3 linked regions of the Homo sapiens genome follow. The protein of the gene in region 3 purifies or fractionates together with the protein of the main gene of each other region. This does not show direct contact. Each region holds a gene or a part of one and is shown on either strand. Other genes may lie near its edges.

Evidence for each region.
Region 1: the proteins of ASB18 (region 3) and ASS1 purify together in Homo sapiens (affinity purification with mass spectrometry, with the first as the bait; one large-scale study listed by BioGRID). This does not show direct contact.
Region 2: the proteins of ASB18 (region 3) and ABLIM1 purify together in Homo sapiens (affinity purification with mass spectrometry, with the first as the bait; one large-scale study listed by BioGRID). This does not show direct contact.

What each region holds. Positions count from the first base shown.
Region 1 is NC_000009.12:130,454,807-130,458,460, reverse strand, and holds part of ASS1 (argininosuccinate synthase), read right to left. Parts: intron 61-3,654; coding exon 1-60. UniProt on the Homo sapiens protein: One of the enzymes of the urea cycle, the metabolic pathway transforming neurotoxic amonia produced by protein catabolism into inocuous urea in the liver of ureotelic animals.
Region 2 is NC_000010.11:114,648,162-114,651,815, forward strand, and holds part of ABLIM1 (actin-binding LIM protein 1), read right to left. Parts: intron 1-3,654. UniProt on the Homo sapiens protein: May act as scaffold protein. May play a role in the development of the retina. Has been suggested to play a role in axon guidance.
Region 3 is NC_000002.12:236,254,397-236,258,050, reverse strand, and holds part of ASB18 (ankyrin repeat and SOCS box protein 18), read left to right. Parts: intron 1-3,654. UniProt on the Homo sapiens protein: May be a substrate-recognition component of a SCF-like ECS (Elongin-Cullin-SOCS-box protein) E3 ubiquitin-protein ligase complex which mediates the ubiquitination and subsequent proteasomal degradation of target proteins.

The sequences.
Region 1 (3,654 bases), on a different chromosome or scaffold from region 3:
CTGGATGGCCGGCCAGATGAACTCCTCCACAAACTCCCTGCTGACATCCTCAATGAACACCTACGGGAAGAGGAGCCCAGAAGGAAGAAGTAGGCAAGGACAGGGGCCATCTGGCATACAGAGCCCCAGGGGCCTCAGCTAGCTGAGACCTATACGGGGCCACCCCCGCTGTACCTGGTGCTTCTTCTTCTGCATCTGTAGTAGACATCATTCATCAATCCCAGCACACTGCACTGTTACTCTCCCTCCTGCACTCATGGCAGACATTGCTAATCAATAGCTCTCTTTTTTTTTTTTTTTTTGAGTCGAAGTCTTGCTCTGTTGCCCAGGTTGGAGTGCAGTGGCTCAGTCTCAACTCACTGCAACCTCCGTCTCCCAGGTTCAAGCAACTCCCCTGCCTCAGCCTCTTGAGTAGCTGGGATTACAGGCGCATGCCACCATGGCTTGCTAATTTTTGTATTTTTGGTAGAGACGGGGTTTCACCATGTTGGCCAGGTTGGTCTTGAACCCCTGACCTCAGGTGATCCAGCTGCCTCGGCCTCCCAAAGTGCTGGGATTACAGGCACAAGCCACCGCGGCCAGCCTGCTAATCAATCCTGATGCACCGTTCTGTGAAACTGGATGTGGCTTCTAAATCAGCCCCAACAAGATGAAACTTAGTTGTCACCTAAGATCTCACAGCAGTAGTTCCCAACCAGAGACGGTTTTGTCCCTGTTGGGGGTGGGAGTAGGGGAGGCATTTGGAAGTATCTGGAGATATTTTTGGTTGCCACAACTACCAGGTGGGGGGTGGAATTCTGGCATCTAGTGGGTAAAGGCTATGGGGATACTGCTAAAATCCTCCCGTGCACAGGACGGCCAGCCACACGGGAACAAGGCCAAGACTGAGAAACCCCGATCCAGAGGAATGGTTCTTGAAATGTAGACCCCCAGGGGTTCCCAATGACTTTTCAGGGAGACACTGAGTGAAAACTTTTTTTTTGTTTTTTTGAGACAGGGTCTTTCTCTGTCATCCAGACTGGAGTGCAGTGGTGTGATCCTAGCTCACTGCAGCCTCAACCTCCTGGGTTCAAGCAATCCTCCCACCTCAGCCTCTTGAGTAGCTGGGACTACGGGCATGTGCTACCACGCCCGGCTAAGTTTTTTATTTTTTGTAGAGATGGGATCTCACTGTGTTGCCCAGTTTTCTTCATAAACTTCAATAAAACAAGGCATCACATAGCGAGGAAGCCCTGGGAGGCTAAAAAAGAAAAACAAACAAACAAACGAAAAAACAAGTGAATGCAGAAAACCGCTACAAGAGTCCATCTGTTTTCTGTCAAGCCAGACATTACAGAGATTTGCAAAAATGGAAGCCAATAAGATTCTTAACTAAAATTTTTTGTTTGAGAAAATAGTTATTTTTCATAAGTGTAATGTTACTTATGTTAACATGAACTGTTCATTTAAAACATTTCAGCTTTTATTTCTAATGTGATAAATATCAACAGATGTAATCCACAAAAGCTCTCTAAGGCCTTCAGTAATTTTTATTTTTTTGAGATGGACTCTCTGTCATCCAGACTGGAGTGCAGAGGTGCAATCTTGGCTCACTGTAACCTCTGCCTTCCGGGTTCAAGTGATTCTCCTGCCTCAGCCTCCCGAGTGGCTGGGACTACAGGCATGTGGGGTTTCTCTACTAAAGAAACTAGGCTGGTTGGCCAGGCTGGTCTCAAACTCCTGACCTCAAGAGATCTGCCCACTTCAGCCTCCCAAAGTGCTAGGATTACAAGCGTGAGCCACCGCACCCAGCCAAGGCCTTCAATAATTTTTAAGAGTCGAGAAATTCTTGGTACTGCTTTTGCAACTTCCTGTGTCTATAATTATTTTGAAAAAAATCCTTTTAAAAAATGAAATAAAAAGGCATAGAAAAGAAAGCAATTGGGACTAAGGATATATAAAAAACATTAGGATAAATGTGTTTTTGTGTTTGTTTGGTTGGTTGGTTGGTTTTTTTTACAGAGTTTTGCTGTTGTTGCCCAGGATGGAGTGCAATGGTGTGATTTCAGCTTACTGCAACCTCCGCCTCCTGGGTTCAAGCGACTCTCCTGCCTCAGCCTCCCGAGCATCTGGGATTACAGGCACCCACCATCGCGCCCAGCTAATTTTTGTATTTTTAGTAGAGACAGGGTTTCACCATGTTGGCCAGGCTGGTCTTGAACTCCTGACCTCAGGTGATCTGCCTGCCTCAGCCTGCCAAAGTGCTGGGATTACAGGCGTGAGCCACTGTGCCTGGCCCATCCTAATGTTATATGCAAGAAAATAAACATTAAAAACGCCACGTAAATTAGAGTGTAGAGGATTCCCAAGACCACAAGTTTTGAGAACTGCTCATCTAGAATAAAGGACAAAAGCTGAAGCCGTGCACAAAGCCTGCTCCTGCGCTGCTGAAAGCGCACTCGAATCTTCAACACTCAGGGCTCTTTCTCCCCTTCCTGGACTACTGCTCAGACAACCCCTCTGCTCTCCAGCACTCGGGAGGCACAGAACCAAGGAGGGACATTCTAGTTCCAGGCCTGTGGCCAGTAGGTGACTTGGGACTGGGGCATCCACTCCCTCCCGTGTTCATTTTAACATGCTAATTACCCTGGCAACCCTGCAGAAGCACCCCACAGAGGGGATCAGCTCTGACCCTGCAGGTGGGCTGGTGGCCTTGCACATCATCCCTGCTATGTCCCCTGCTCACTCTCCCAAATGAAGGGGCACAAGTGGCAAGGGCTTCTCCATGGGGAGTGAGCACATGTGAGCAGGGGTCCTGATGACACTGTTCATCATAAATGCCCTGTATGGGACAGGGGTCTGCCTGCCACATGCCTAGATTCACAATCAAGGCACCAGACTCAATTGGAGTTCTCTGATTCTGTTGAATGAATGGAAGAATGGGTAGACAGAGAGATAAAAGAGGGAAGGACAGGTAGGGGGATGATGGACAGAAGGATGGATGATGGATGACAGATGGATGGATGGATGAATGGATGGATAGAAAAACGGTGAATGGATGAAGGATGGATGGATGGATGGGGGATGGATAGATGAATGGCTGGCTGTCTGGATGAATGGATGGATAGACAGTGGAGGGATTAATGACAGATGGATATGTGGATGGATGGATGGATAATGAAGGGATGGATGGGTGAATGGATAATGGGATGGATGGATAGATGATGGATGGATGAATGGATGGATGAATAGACGGATGGATGATGGATGGATGCATGGGTAGATGATGGATGGATGAATGGATGATGCATGGAAGGATGAAGAATGATGGATGGATGGATGGATGATGGATGAATAAATGGATGATGGATGGATAGACGGATGATGGCTGGATGAATGGATGATGGGTGAATGGATGGATGGATGGATGATGGATGAATGGATGGATGATGGATGGATGGATGATGGGTGAATGGATGGATGGATGATGGATGAATGGACGGAGGATGGATGGATAGATGGATAGATGGATGATGGATGGATGGATGAATGGATGGATGGATAATGGATGGGTGGATGAGTGGATGGGTGATGGATGGATGGGTGGATGGATGATGGATGAATGGATGAATGGATGGATGGATGGATGATGGGTGAATGGATGGGTGGGTGATG
Region 2 (3,654 bases), on a different chromosome or scaffold from region 3:
AGGATTTCCACTCCTCGGTATATACCCAAGGGGACTGAAAACACGTTCACACAAAAACATGTAACAAGTGTTCATAGCAGCATTATTCATAATAGCCAGAAAGCAGGAACAACACAAATGACCATCGGCTGACGAAAAGATAAAGAAAATGTGATATATCCCTACAATGGGATACTATTCAGCCATAAGAAGGAATACGGTATTGATAAATGCTACCGCCTCGATGAGCCTTAAAAACATTATACTAAGTAAAAGAAGCTAGACACAAAAATCACAGGTTACATGATTCCAATCAGATGAAATGTCTGGAATAGGAAAACCCACAAACACCTAAAGGAGATAAGTCGTTGCCAGCAGCTGAGGAATGTGAGTCATCAGGGATGTTTTCTAACGGGCACAAGGTTTCTTTCTGGGCTGATAAAAATGCTCTGGAATTAGATAGTGGGATGGTTGCACAACTTCGTGGTTCTACTAAAATGCACAGGCTCGTAAATGTTAAAGTGGTGAATGTTATGGTGTACTACATTACATCTCCATTTTAAAATGTATGAAGTACCTTTACTTACCAAGCACTGCGTTATAGTCTGAAGAAACCACGGAAACAACTGTCCTGCCACTAAGGCACTTACTACCTGGTAGGGAGACACGCAAACAAACAGATACAAATAGCCAAGCATAGAGGTGCTTGGATGGGCATTTGTGTGGTACACAGCAGAGCCCAAAAGAGGAGAGGTCTGGAGAGACTCCACAGGAAAGTTTCACCCGAGCTGAATCTCCAACTGAACTTAAAAAAAAAAATTAATAATCCTTTGGTCTTCTCATGTAATATCAAACAGGGAGAGAGGAGAGCTAGGGTCTTAATCTAACACTACCCTCTGATTATACCATAGACCTTAGGAAAGTCATTTACTTCTCTGGACCTCAGTCTCTTACTTCCTACAAAAGTAAGGTGTTGGCTGGGCACGGTGGCTCACACCTATAACCCCAGTGCTTTGGGAGGCCGAGGCGGGCAGGTCATTTGAGGTCAGGAGTTCAAGACCAGCTTTGGCCAACATGGTGAAACCCCATCTCTACTAAAAATACAAAAATATTAGCCAGGCATGGTGGTGCATGCCTGTAATCCTAGCCACCCAGAAGGCGGAGGCACAGAGAATCGCTGGAACCCGGGAGGCAGAGGCTGCAGTGAGCCAAGATCACACCAGTGTGCTCCAGCCTGGGTGACAGAGCAAGACTCTGTCAAAATAAATAAATAAATAAATAAATAAATAAATAAATAAATAAATAAATAAATAAAGGTGTTGATATCAAAGGTTTATTTCTACCTTTGAGAAATATCTAGAATCCTCGTGCATATCATATCATAGTCTATCTAAAATCCTGACATACTTAAATCCTGATTCTGCAAAGGGTTTCTCTAGTGTATTCTGGGTGTGCTGCTTTCTGAGATTGAGAAAGGAATCTTCCTGCTGGCTACCTCTACACGCCCTAACAAACAGCACACAGACTATGCTTCCTTCCTGTTGGCAGCCTTCATCTTCCACCCCAGGGACAGAATCACCCATCTGCTGACCACGTATTCACCTTATATTACCTTCCTACTGGTAGCCTTCGTCTTGTAGTCCATAGACAAATCAAGCCTGTGCTGGCCACCTGTCCACCCCAATGAGTAACACACAATCCATATCCCCCCTCTTTTTTTTCTTTTTTTTTTTGAGACAAAGTCTCACTTTGTTGTCCAGGCTGGAGTGCAGTAGTGCTATCTCGGCTCACTGCAACCTCTGCCTCCCAGGTTCAAGCAATTTCCCAGCCTCAGCCTCCTGAGTAGCTGGGACTACAGGCGCCCACCACCATGCCAGGCTAATTTTTGTATTTTTTAGTAGAGACGGGGTTTCACTATGTTGGCCAGGCTGGTCTCGACCTCCTGACCTCGTGATTCACCCATCTCGGCCTCCCAAAGTGCTGGGATTACAGGCGTGAGCCACTGTGCCCAGCCTCCACACAATCCATATTCCCTTTCTGTTAGCAGCTTTGTCTTGTACCCATGGCCGTCACAGGTCCATGGCTGATTTGCCAAGTTAACAGGAGTCCATCCATAATAATCAGCACTGGGTCATGCCCCAGAATCATTAGGATCAAAGGATGGGAAATCAGGGATTTCTTTGAAAGTAAGCCACTCTTAGTAAGATTCAAATTTGTTTAAAGCCTGGATTAAAACAATGCCAAACAATAAACTTAAACAGACTGCTTTACCCTCTGACTTTAAATAAGATTAGTTTTTAAGTACATTTAATTAAAACGAATGGGGCATTGCAGCATATTTACTCACTCAAGGAAGTAATTTACATGGGAACATTTCATGTGAAAATAGTTACTTGCCCACATTCCTAGGACTAAAAATAAAATAAACAAAACAAAAAGCAACCATCAATAAAACAAAAAAAAAGCTGGACCAAGTAGATTCAGCCAGTGGAACTAGGTGAAAAGTGTCTTACTTCTACCTTTTTCTTTCCACTCTCAGATCATTGGGCTATTTTCCTTTTACTCGTATTTTGGGTAAATCATATCTATTTTACAGCTCAAATCGCAAATCCTACTTTCTCTTTCCCTTCAGTGATATTTCTTTCCTTTGAAAACTAATTGTATTTGTTATCTAGACAATTATTCAACTTCTCACACATTTGGGTGAGAAGAAGAGGGGGAAGTATTTATCGAGCTCCAACTAAATGCCAGCATTTCTAAAATACGTATTTTCTCTTAGGGCTCATAATACCGCTGCAATGTGGGTAGTATTATCCACATTTTATATACGAGAAAACTAAGGCTCGGACATATTAAGTCACTTGCCCAGGTCACAGAACTGCAAAGAGCAGAGCTGGACTTTGAACTTGGCAGCGAGGTCTGACCCCATAACCCTGAATTTGCAACCAGTTTGCTTTGCAGCTTCTCCTGGCCTCAGCTACTTGAAGGCAGGGGGACAATTTAATGCCGAATTGTATTCTTCGAACATAGTGATTTGATTTCTGCGAACATTCACTCATTCATTTACTCATCACTCACAGCTTTTTTTCCATGCCAGGTACTATAATGGAATAAAAATAAGAGCACAGCTCTCTCCTTGCCCTCAGAGAGGACCTCAGTGTATGAAAAGGGAGAAGCTTATAAACAGGCAACTTGAACAAAGATGTGCAGAGGATGCTATGAAAACACAGAGGAGGACGAGGCAAGAGGTAAGATCAGGCCGGCCCAGAGGAGGAAAAGCTTAACCTGCAGCCTGCTGGGCCTCAGAGAAACTGGGGAGACTGTGCCAGGCAGCAGAATTGCACATACAAAGAGAGGCCCAACGTGAAAGCATCCTTCAAACATCTGTGACAAAGAAGACTGATGCGGGTGTTTGGGGGTTAAGAGTGGGACGTGATAGAAAGGCTTAACCGTCAAGAGCTTGAAACGTATGATTCTGGGAAATATGATTAAACTAATGGAATGAGAAGCCTAGGGAATTGAAAAGGGGTTATTGGTAACTATAAATAAAAAAAAAATGCAAACTATCTAATGCTTTCCCAAATAGCTGAAACCTCAAATCCCTCTCCATTCATGCCCTTGCAAGATGTAGAAGTAACTGGCCACCACCTATCATCTCCATCCTCAGGAGAACAA
Region 3 (3,654 bases):
TTAGGAAGAATAAGTCCCCAAATCAGGGTATGTTCAAACTGAAACTGGTCCTACACGGAGGCAAAGAAGGAGGAATTGGCAATGCCGCAAGTCCCTGCTGTTCCCTGGAGAACAGGTGAGAGCATCTCCAAGAGCTCTCCCCTTTCCACTCCTCCAGCTGAGGAAAATGAGGCTTGGAGAAGTTGCATGACACACCTTGGGTTCCACAGACAATTGGCACTGTAAACCCAGTGCCCTTTCCCGTGCTCCACGGCACCTGTAGTTCATCCCACAGCTGCGTTCTACAGACCGGAACACTGCTGCTCACCTGTGTTCACTTGCTGGTCAACAGCCAGTTAGGAGCAGAGCAGGAGCAGGTATGCTTCCTGACTTGTAGTCAGGGGCTCTTGCTGCCTACCCACCCAGAGACATTTTGCAGGAACGTCCCTGAAAAAACTTCCCAGTGAAGCTGTCTACAACCCTTTAATCTGACATGAAGCATACATATGCATATGTACACACGCACACACACAGTCATGCACACGTGCACACAATCTCAGTAGATAGAGTCCCTGGTTTCAAATCATTGAGCAAAAATAATCCCAAAAAATCATGGGCAAGTAAGTGGGGTGCTAGGCTGGAGAATAAAAACAGAAATGGGAAGCGAGAGGTCACCCACGGCAGGGCAGGCAGGAGGAGAAGCGCTCTGCTGTCTTGACTGCTCACTCCACCAGAGAGCGTGGGGGCAGGGAGACCCTGCTCGAAGCAAAATGAAATTAAACCTTTCTAAGTACTTATAAATCAGCACCTAATGACACTATCCCACCACCAGCCTGAGCATTGCTCTTATTACTTTGATTCACAAGCCAGGAAAAGATCCGGAATTATGCACAAATTATTGTCCCATCTTCTTAATTAACGCTGATTGCAAAATTCTTGCTAAAGTCCTTGCTAACAGACTCAATTATGCGCTGCCTGAATTGATTCACCCAGATCAAGTGGAATTTATTAGAAATACACTTTCCTACAATAACATCAGATTATCTTTGAATATAGTTGAATTATTTAGGAACAAAATGGCTGCTGCAGCAGCCCTCTCTTTAAATACAGAAAAATATCTCCCACCACCTAGAATTAAAATGTTTCTTTGCTTTCTACGAGACACACACCCTAGGCTCTTTTTTTTTCCCCAGAAGCAGGTTGAATGACACTGTGATGAGATGAGATGCATGCCTTAGAGCTAATGGTCCGGCTTCAAAGGCATATGGACAAGAAAAAAAATCCTACAGGGTCGCGTCTCAGCTCCCCCCAAGTATGAACTGTCACTGCCTGTGGAACACAGTGAAATTGCAATTAGACTAAATCAGGGTATTTTCAGAATCAAAATTGAGAAACGGGCTAATAAAGAAATAATGTATGCTGATGACATCCATCTATTAACATCATCCCCAAGCACACTGGAGAGTTTGGAAAGAACAAAAAGCAATGAGAATAATAGCGGAGAGGCTTTTCTACCTTTCTGAGATGACGACAGTTTCCTGCCACAAGTGCTCTGCTTGAGAAGTAAACATTCCGAAGGAACTAATTGGAAATGGCAGGCATGCTCTCTGTAGCCTGATTCTAGCTTCCCATCCAATGCCCCACTATCTTTTAATGCCAACCTCTGCACCTGGATATTGGACAGGGACTAGGTTTGTCTTATTTGCCACATCCTGCACATACTAGGTACCTAATAAATACTTATGGGCCGGGCATGGTGGTTCATGCCTGTAACCCCAGCACTTTGGGAGGCTAAGGTGGGCGAATCTCTTGAGCCCAGGAGTTTGAGACCAGCCTGAGCAACATGGCAAGACTCTATCTCTACAAAAAATACACCAATTAGCCTGGGCATGATGGCACACACCTATAGTCCCAGTTACTTGGGGGACTGAGGCAGGAGGACCACTTAAGCTGGAAGGTGCTGCAGTGAACCGTGATCATGCCACTGCACTCCAACCTGGCAACAGTGAGAGCCGGTCTCCAAAAAACAAATGAATACATAGAAATTAAAAATAAATAAATAAAAAATAAATATTAATGCACCAAATAGCACAGGGAGAACACTGTAGAAATCCTCTGACTTGACCCTCGAAACAGGAGCATGTTCCTGGGAGGCTGTGATCCAAAGGAAGGAAGCCCAGATAAAGGGAGGCGAGCAGGAAACGTAGTGCACCCAAGGCATGGCACGTGGGACAGGGAAGTGGGACACAACTTGGACTTGGGTGTGTAAATCAGAGAAGAGAGGAAGCCCCAGGCAAAGAGATTGGGACGATATTGTTTGAGGCTACACATTCTAGGCACAGGTGTTTACACTTACTTGGAAAAGCCATGAGGAGCCATTCAGCAAAGGAATGAGGTCATCTTAATTTGGAAAGAAAACACCTGACTCTTTTACTTAGGTAAAGCAGAAGATAGAGGAGAAAGGACAGGTGCCAGGAGAGGCCACCAGCTGCTAGCTATTCCCTCACAGCCACCCTCCTCTCCTGCTTTACCAGCAAAATCCCTGTGGCATGCAATGTGCCCACCTGAAAAAGAAATACATCTCCCCACTGTGTTAGTCCGTTCTCGCATTGTGATAAAGAAATACCAGGCCAGGCGCAGTGGCTCACACCTCTAATCCCAGCACTTTGATAGGCCGAGGGGGGCAGATCACCTGAGGTCAGGAGTTCAAGACCAGTCTGGCCAACATGGTGAAACCCCGTCTCTACAAAAAATATATAAATTAGCTGGGCGTCGTGGTGGGCGCCTGTAATTTCAGCTACTCAAGAGGCTGAGGCAGGAGAATCGCTTGAACCTGGGAGGAGGAGGTTGCAGTGAGCCAAGATCGCGCTACTGCACTCAGGCCTGGGCGACAGAATGAGACTCCGTCTCAAAGAAAGAAAAAAAAGAAAAAGAAAGAAATACCAGAGGTTTAATTGGCTCACGGTTCTGCAGGCTGTACAGGAAGCGTAGCGGCTTCGGCTTCTGGGGAGACTTCAGGAAGCTTTCAGTCGCGGCGGAACGCAAATGGGGAGCAGGCAGCTTACAGGGCAGGAGCAGGAGAAAGAGTGGGGTCGCGAGTGCTACACACTTTTAAACAACCAGATCTCACAAGAACTCACTATCTTGAGAACAGCACCAAGCGGATGGCAGGAAACCGTTCCTGGGAACTCCGCCCCCATGATCCCATCACCTCCCACCAGGCCCCACCACCCTCATTGGGAATGATAATTGGCATGAGATCTGGGCGGGGACACAAATCCAAACCCGATCACCCACTTCCCTTGAAGCTAGGGCTGGTCTTGTTCCCATCAACGATGGGCTTAACAGCAGATGGAAGAGGACAGAAGACAGAGCCGGCAAATTTGAAAACATCAATAGAAAAATATTTGATTTGAAGAAGAGAAAGTAAAATGATGGGAAATTAAATGAACAGGATCTGTGGGACAAAATAAAAGGTTTAACATACACAACTAAATGCAAGAAAGAGAAGAGAAGAATAATAACAGGGTGGAAAAATATGATTAAAGAAATAACTACCAAACGTTTCCCAAATTTAGTGGTAAAAAATGTAACTTTATAGATTCAAGAAGTTCAGCCAACCAGAAGAAGGGCAGAGTTGATAGAAGGGAGTCAGCTGTGTGGGCTCGCATGCCT